Regions from separate parts of the Homo sapiens genome. Here region 2 is linked to region 1. Evidence: fine-mapped expression QTL. A gene starts in region 1. The other region holds a variant in brackets. All regions are shown on one strand. Distances are from middle to middle.

The links. PIP is the estimated chance that this variant, and not a neighbour inherited with it, causes the effect.
Region 2: its variant is the best candidate, but not a certain one, in a credible set for the expression of SLC25A5 in nasal epithelium (TOPMed, PIP 0.53).

What each region holds. Positions count from the first base shown.
Region 1 is chrX:119,466,989-119,469,898 of GRCh38, forward strand. It overlaps SLC25A5 (solute carrier family 25 member 5), which reads left to right and starts at 1,456. Exons shown (of 4, transcript NM_001152.5): 1 at 1,456-1,638; 2 at 2,673-2,910. The coding sequence starts at 1,528. It overlaps SLC25A5-AS1 (SLC25A5 antisense RNA 1), which reads right to left and starts at 2,132. Exons shown (of 1, transcript NR_028443.1): 1 at 1-2,132. RefSeq lists silencers at 1,136-1,515, 2,006-2,245.
Region 2 is chrX:119,417,402-119,420,311 of GRCh38, forward strand. The region is part of intron 3 of SLC25A43 (solute carrier family 25 member 43); the gene reads left to right. Among named protein-coding and RNA genes, the nearest start is that of SLC25A43, 20 kb to the left of the region's middle. The variant T/C (reference allele first, on the strand shown) is at 1,258.

The DNA of each region.
Region 1 (2,910 bases):
GAGACTAACAAATTGCAAAGTGTACTTTCAGAGGAAGGGCCTAACCATCCTGGGGGGTCCTAGAATTGGGTCCTTTCACAGGCAGATCTGGAGAAGATAGGAGAGGGCAGGAAAGGAAAGTGAAGGATATGAACACTATGTGTTCAGTGTGCAAAGGCCTGCTGGCATTTTGCCTATGGGAATTCTGAAGTCTGGGCACATAAGGTTCAGCTGCAGTTGCAGTTTTCAACAGTCGTCCTTATTTTTATAAACATTGTTATGATTATTCAGACACGGAACTTGTGATTACACTATTTGCTCCTGTTCTGAACTTGAGGGAGTCCACTTAAGCTAACAAGTAGGTTTTTGAGGACATGTGTGGCAAATGCTTACCCAGTGAAGGGATTAAGGGGCTCAGTAAGCACTTGTCCATTGGCACAATGGCTGCCAATCTAATTCTATTGATTCCTCTAAATGTTTCTGGAGTTCAGAAATCTATTCAATCCAAGGGCACTTTACCTGGGGTCCTGGGAGCCAAATGTTAACGTAGTTCTTAACCTTCCTAAGCCTCTTAACCTTCTGGGTACAACCTCTATATTTGTCTTCTGGCTAAAATCATTTCCCCACCCCCAGCCCAGTCCTTTGGACTCTCCCAGGCCAATTCCTGGCAAGATCTTTGTCGAACTGTATTTGCAAACCAGGGTCTGGGGCACGGTGGCAGTTCCTTCGTCTGCTGTTCCCTTAATTTCGTCTGGTTTCACTGGCTCCAGGACAGCACACGGTCTAGAGTGGGAAGAGTGAGGCATTCACCTTGGTGAAAAACAACTCAGTAATTAAGACAAATGATTTTTCATGTACTATTTTAAAAAAATCAGAAGCAATGCAAAAATCCATGATGAACAAATGATCAACATTTGAAATACAGACAGGATCCCAACCTGCACTTGCATGACCTTGTCTCGCTTGCCTCACCCTAAACCCAGCCTTGACACTCCAATTAAACTTTATTTACAAAACAAGGGGGCCGGCCAGTAGGATGTAGTTTGCCCATACGACTTTTTTAAAGTATCGCATTGACTACTGTTTATCTCGATGACTGAAGGGTTCTTTTGGCATCCCTGTAGCAAATGCGTCTCACCCTAGTCCTGGTCCTGCTCCAAGGGTTTTTGTCCAGGCACATCGTGACCTCACCCTTCCTCCCCTCTCCGAGGCCTCTCTCAGGGTCCAGCGTTCAAGTCCCGGGTGTTCTCTGGACCCGCCCCTTCCTCTCGCCGGGTCAGGTGCCGAGGGCGAGCACGGGCGGCGCGGAGAGCAGTCCCGGCCCGCCCTCCACGACTCCTCCTCCTGCGAGCTGGGCCACTCAGCGGCTCTGCCGCCCAGCGCGCCGGGGCCCAGACCCCGCCCCGGCCCCGCCTCCGACGCCTGCCGCTCCAGCTCCGGCTCCCCCTATATAAATCGGCCATTTGCTTCGCTCCGCCCCGCAGCGCCGGAGTCAAAGCCGGTTCCCGGCCCAGTCCCGTCCTGCAGCAGTCTGCCTCCTCTTTCAACATGACAGATGCCGCTGTGTCCTTCGCCAAGGACTTCCTGGCAGGTGGAGTGGCCGCAGCCATCTCCAAGACGGCGGTAGCGCCCATCGAGCGGGTCAAGCTGCTGCTGCAGGTACGTCCTGGGATCCAGGAGCCCAACCAGGAAGTGGGGGGAAGGGTCGCACAGAAGGCGGGCGCCCGAGGGGTGGCGGGGAGCGAACTCTAAAGACATGGCCAGGGAAGCGGCTTAGGAGAGGCCAGAGCGGGGCGCAGAGGCAGAACAGAAGTCAAACTGGTGGGAGGCGCCTTTAGTGACCTGAAGTAGTGAGTCTAGGAAGGGGCCGGGGGCAGAGGGCAGGACCAGGCTCTCGGCATCTCCGAGGCGGCGGACTCGGATGGAGCAGTTTCTGAGTGACGGCCTCCCCGGGCCTGGGCGTCAAGGGCGAAGGCCGAAAGCCGGCGTTAGAAAGAGGAACGCCAGTTCTTACCGAAGACCTCAAGGTCGCGGCAAGGAGATAACTGCCCGGGGGAGGCCATGCGCCCGGGTCCAGCGGCCTCCCAGCCCGCGGACGCGCTCAAACCTCGCCGGGCCGGAAGCCGGCGCCGGGAAGCGCGTGTGCCTTTTACGTCCGCCCCCGCGCAGCCGCGGCCGCTGCCGCCGCGTCTCCGCCTGCCTCCCTGCGCCGCGCGCTCTCCAGTGCCGGCTCTAGAGGGCGCTCCTGGGCTAGCGTGTAGGGCTGGCGGCGGCGGCGCTCGGGTCACCTCTGGGAGCGGAGTGGGGGCGGAGCGAGACGGAAGCAGCTCAGGAGACTTGAGGCGTAGGCTGCGGTCCCCAAGGTGACCGCGCCCTATGTGGGACTCGCCCTAATGCCTCTGAACCTGGGTTTGAGGTAATGACCTTTCTCCTAGGTCTGAAGGTCACGGGTCCGCTGGAGGATGCCCCCTCTCCACTCAGAGGGGTGGAGGCTTAATGCTACTGGTGCAGATCACCTCTTCCCCTGTGACAGCCTCAGAGGGTTGGGAGGGTCCAGCCAGTATGATATACGAAGACTAGATTTGAGAGAGGGGAGCCTACCTTAAAGGGCATTGATCGAGATGGCATAAGCTCTTCTCTTTCCCTTCCCCATGGTTATAACTGTCCCTGTTGGCTTCCTTCCTGTCTGTTAGGTGCAGCATGCCAGCAAGCAGATCACTGCAGATAAGCAATACAAAGGCATTATAGACTGCGTGGTCCGTATTCCCAAGGAGCAGGGAGTTCTGTCCTTCTGGCGCGGTAACCTGGCCAATGTCATCAGATACTTCCCCACCCAGGCTCTTAACTTCGCCTTCAAAGATAAATACAAGCAGATCTTCCTGGGTGGTGTGGACAAGAGAACCCAGTTTTGGCTCTACTTTGCAGGGAATC
Region 2 (2,910 bases), 50 kb before region 1:
GGTGACAGAGCGAGACTCTGTCTCAAAAAAAAGAGAAAAGAAAAGAAAAAGGTTTCAGATGAAGTTCAATGACATCTAAATGGGACGGGTAAGGGTCCCAGTCTTCCCCATAAACCTTAGTTTTGCTTTCTCTTCCTGAGAGCTAGAACAGTGACCTCATCTGGGAGAATCCAGCCAACACCGCATTCTACACCATCTGCATTCTATACCCCTACCACAACAACCCACTATAAACTGGGGTAAGATACACTAGAAGTGGGTATTTGGGGGTAATCCTGATCATCTTTTTCCTCGTATGGGAGCCTTCCAAATAATGCATATATAGAGCATAAGAAGAAGTTTCAAATAGATGCAAAGTCATGATGGTTGTAAAAAAAAAAAAAAAATCCAAAGAGGTAATTGCACTGTTTTCACAAAATAGGATCAACATGTAATTATGAATAACAATATAAATGTCATCCAAAGATATAGGAAGTGAACTTTTAGGGTTTCAGTGAAAGTGTTATTTTGCAGGGGTTAATAAACATACTAATACTTTGTCCACCCTATGTTAAAAAAAAAATTCACCCCCAAGACAGAACTGCAGGCTGCTTTTAAATGCAAACATGGCATTGGGCTTCTCTGGCCATTAGATGTCACTGCAGTAAATGGAGAGTAGCTGAGCATCACCTGATTGGAGCCTGAAGTTCGGTGATCTCTGTCCAGTTAACAACTTCATAATCCCTGCTTGAAATCCATCTTTGGTTTGGAGAATAAGAGGCCTAGAAACCACAGGCTAATGCTAAACTTGTTGGTTTTGTTGTTACTGTTACTTGTCCTACAAAGCACACACTCCAAATTCACCAAGAAGAGAGGGCTTTAATAACAGTCTGTCCTCGCTGGAGCAGGCAGGGTTTGCCAGCAGAATAAGTAACGAGGGACCTTTGCAGGGCCACTGGGCTGCTCTGACCTGAGCACACTTAATGGCAACATTTGCATTCCATTGGCTTTCCCCATTGCACTGCCTGTCATGAAGCAAATCAATGGCAGGTGTCTGTTGGATAACGAGCTACACAGGGAATTTTTCTCGATCCCTGCACTGACTGGCCCCTTTGTCTGGATGTTTCTTTCTCTTAATATGCTTTTCTCTAGACACACACAGCCCATTTAATGGCACATCAGGTTGGAACTCTTTTGAACATAATGACAGTAATCAGAAGTCTTGTTTAACCAGCTGAGCCCTTCCTTCACCATGCTTACACTCATTTTATCCCTTTT[T/C]CCTTTTCTTGCCTTGGCTCCTGGCTGGCATGCTAGAGAATGGAGAGGTAAATAAATTATGCATGTGCATGTCTTGATAGAATGGCTTCTGGTGGGAAGGGGGGTGGGTCAGGCCTGTGCACACATGGAATGAGGTGCCCCCAACTTGGTGTGCTTTCACGGACCCCAACCACCCTGCCTGAAATCCCCTTCTCCACGCTTCAGTGCATCTTAGCTCAAGCCCTTCCAGGTATAGCCTGGCCTTTTTGTCTATCTCCCACACCTAGCCCAGGGCCTGGGCCAGAAGAGATGGCAGAACTTAGTGTATTGAGAGAACAAGTAGGAAGGGTAAAATATTGACAGAGATGAATTCATCTGATTAATCTGTGCACCCCGAATAAGAACCAGGGAGTCCTGAGAAAATGGCTCTCTGCACAGGTGCATGTGAAGAAGAGAGGGAGATAGGCTGGGGAATACTGCCCTGAAAATCCAGGGAGCAGCTGAGAATGTAGGAGCCTTGGAATCTGGCAGGCCTTCTGAAAGGATCAGGAGGGAGGTACCAGACACATGCTCGGTCCCCCCACAACTCTGCCTGACACCCTCCCCTATTGCCCATATTAGGTGTCTCCATTTCATCAAATATAAAACCAAGTGTGAGCCTGTTGCTTTATACCCCAGTGGACTTTGACCCCATCACAGCTCACAAGGTAAGCAGGATTGGGCCAGGTCAGCATTTGAACTGAAAGCACATAAGATGAAGGACAAAGGTGGTATCCGAGTGGTACAGCTGACTGAGCAGAATATACATGGTCAGTGAATAAACAGAGGCCCCAGCCTACTCAAATAGAGATGCTCGACACCTCGGGTTACCTTTGTTGAATTGGACACAGTCACTTCATTCATTCCCTCTCAGGGTGCTCATCCCCTCTTGTAGTTTTTCATGTTCATATCTACATCTTCAATCCTGACCTCCCTTCTGAGCCATGGTCCCACATTTCCCACAGCCTGCTCGACATCACTATTTGGCTATCATATCCCCACTGTCACCTCTAACTTAATGTGCATCAAGCTGACCTCTTCTTTTCCTAACACTGTTATTCCAGAGTTTTCCATTTCAATTCCATCATTGCCCCAGTGACTCAGGCTGGAAATCCACAACTTGTGTTTGACTCTTCCCCTTCCCCTCACCCGGTTAACCTTGAGCCCTGTTGCTTCTTCATTCCTAACATTCCCATGCTGGTCTTTCTTTTTGTCACTGCCTCTTGCCCTAATCTTGGACCTTATCAGCTCATACCTAGGCTATTACAGTAATCTCCTCATTGGTCTCCAGGATTAATTCTAAAAATGATCTTAAGCATTGAATATTAATATGTACTAGGCACTGTGCTAAGTGCTTTATGTTCATTATCTCATTTAATCCTTACAACAGCCCTACAAGGTGGGCACTGTTATTATTAAGTCCATTTTACAGATGAGAAAACTGAGGCACCGAAAGGTTTTGTAGCCTGCAAGTTCACCCATCCAGTAATTGAGCTGGGATATAAGCCCAGGGAGCTTGTCTCCAGAGTCAGTGCTCATTTCAATCCTCTCCAGCCCAGCCCATATGGGATTCTGTCAGATGAATCTTTCTCAGATCTGTCTGCGTTAGATCCTTTTTTTTTTTTTTTTTTCTTT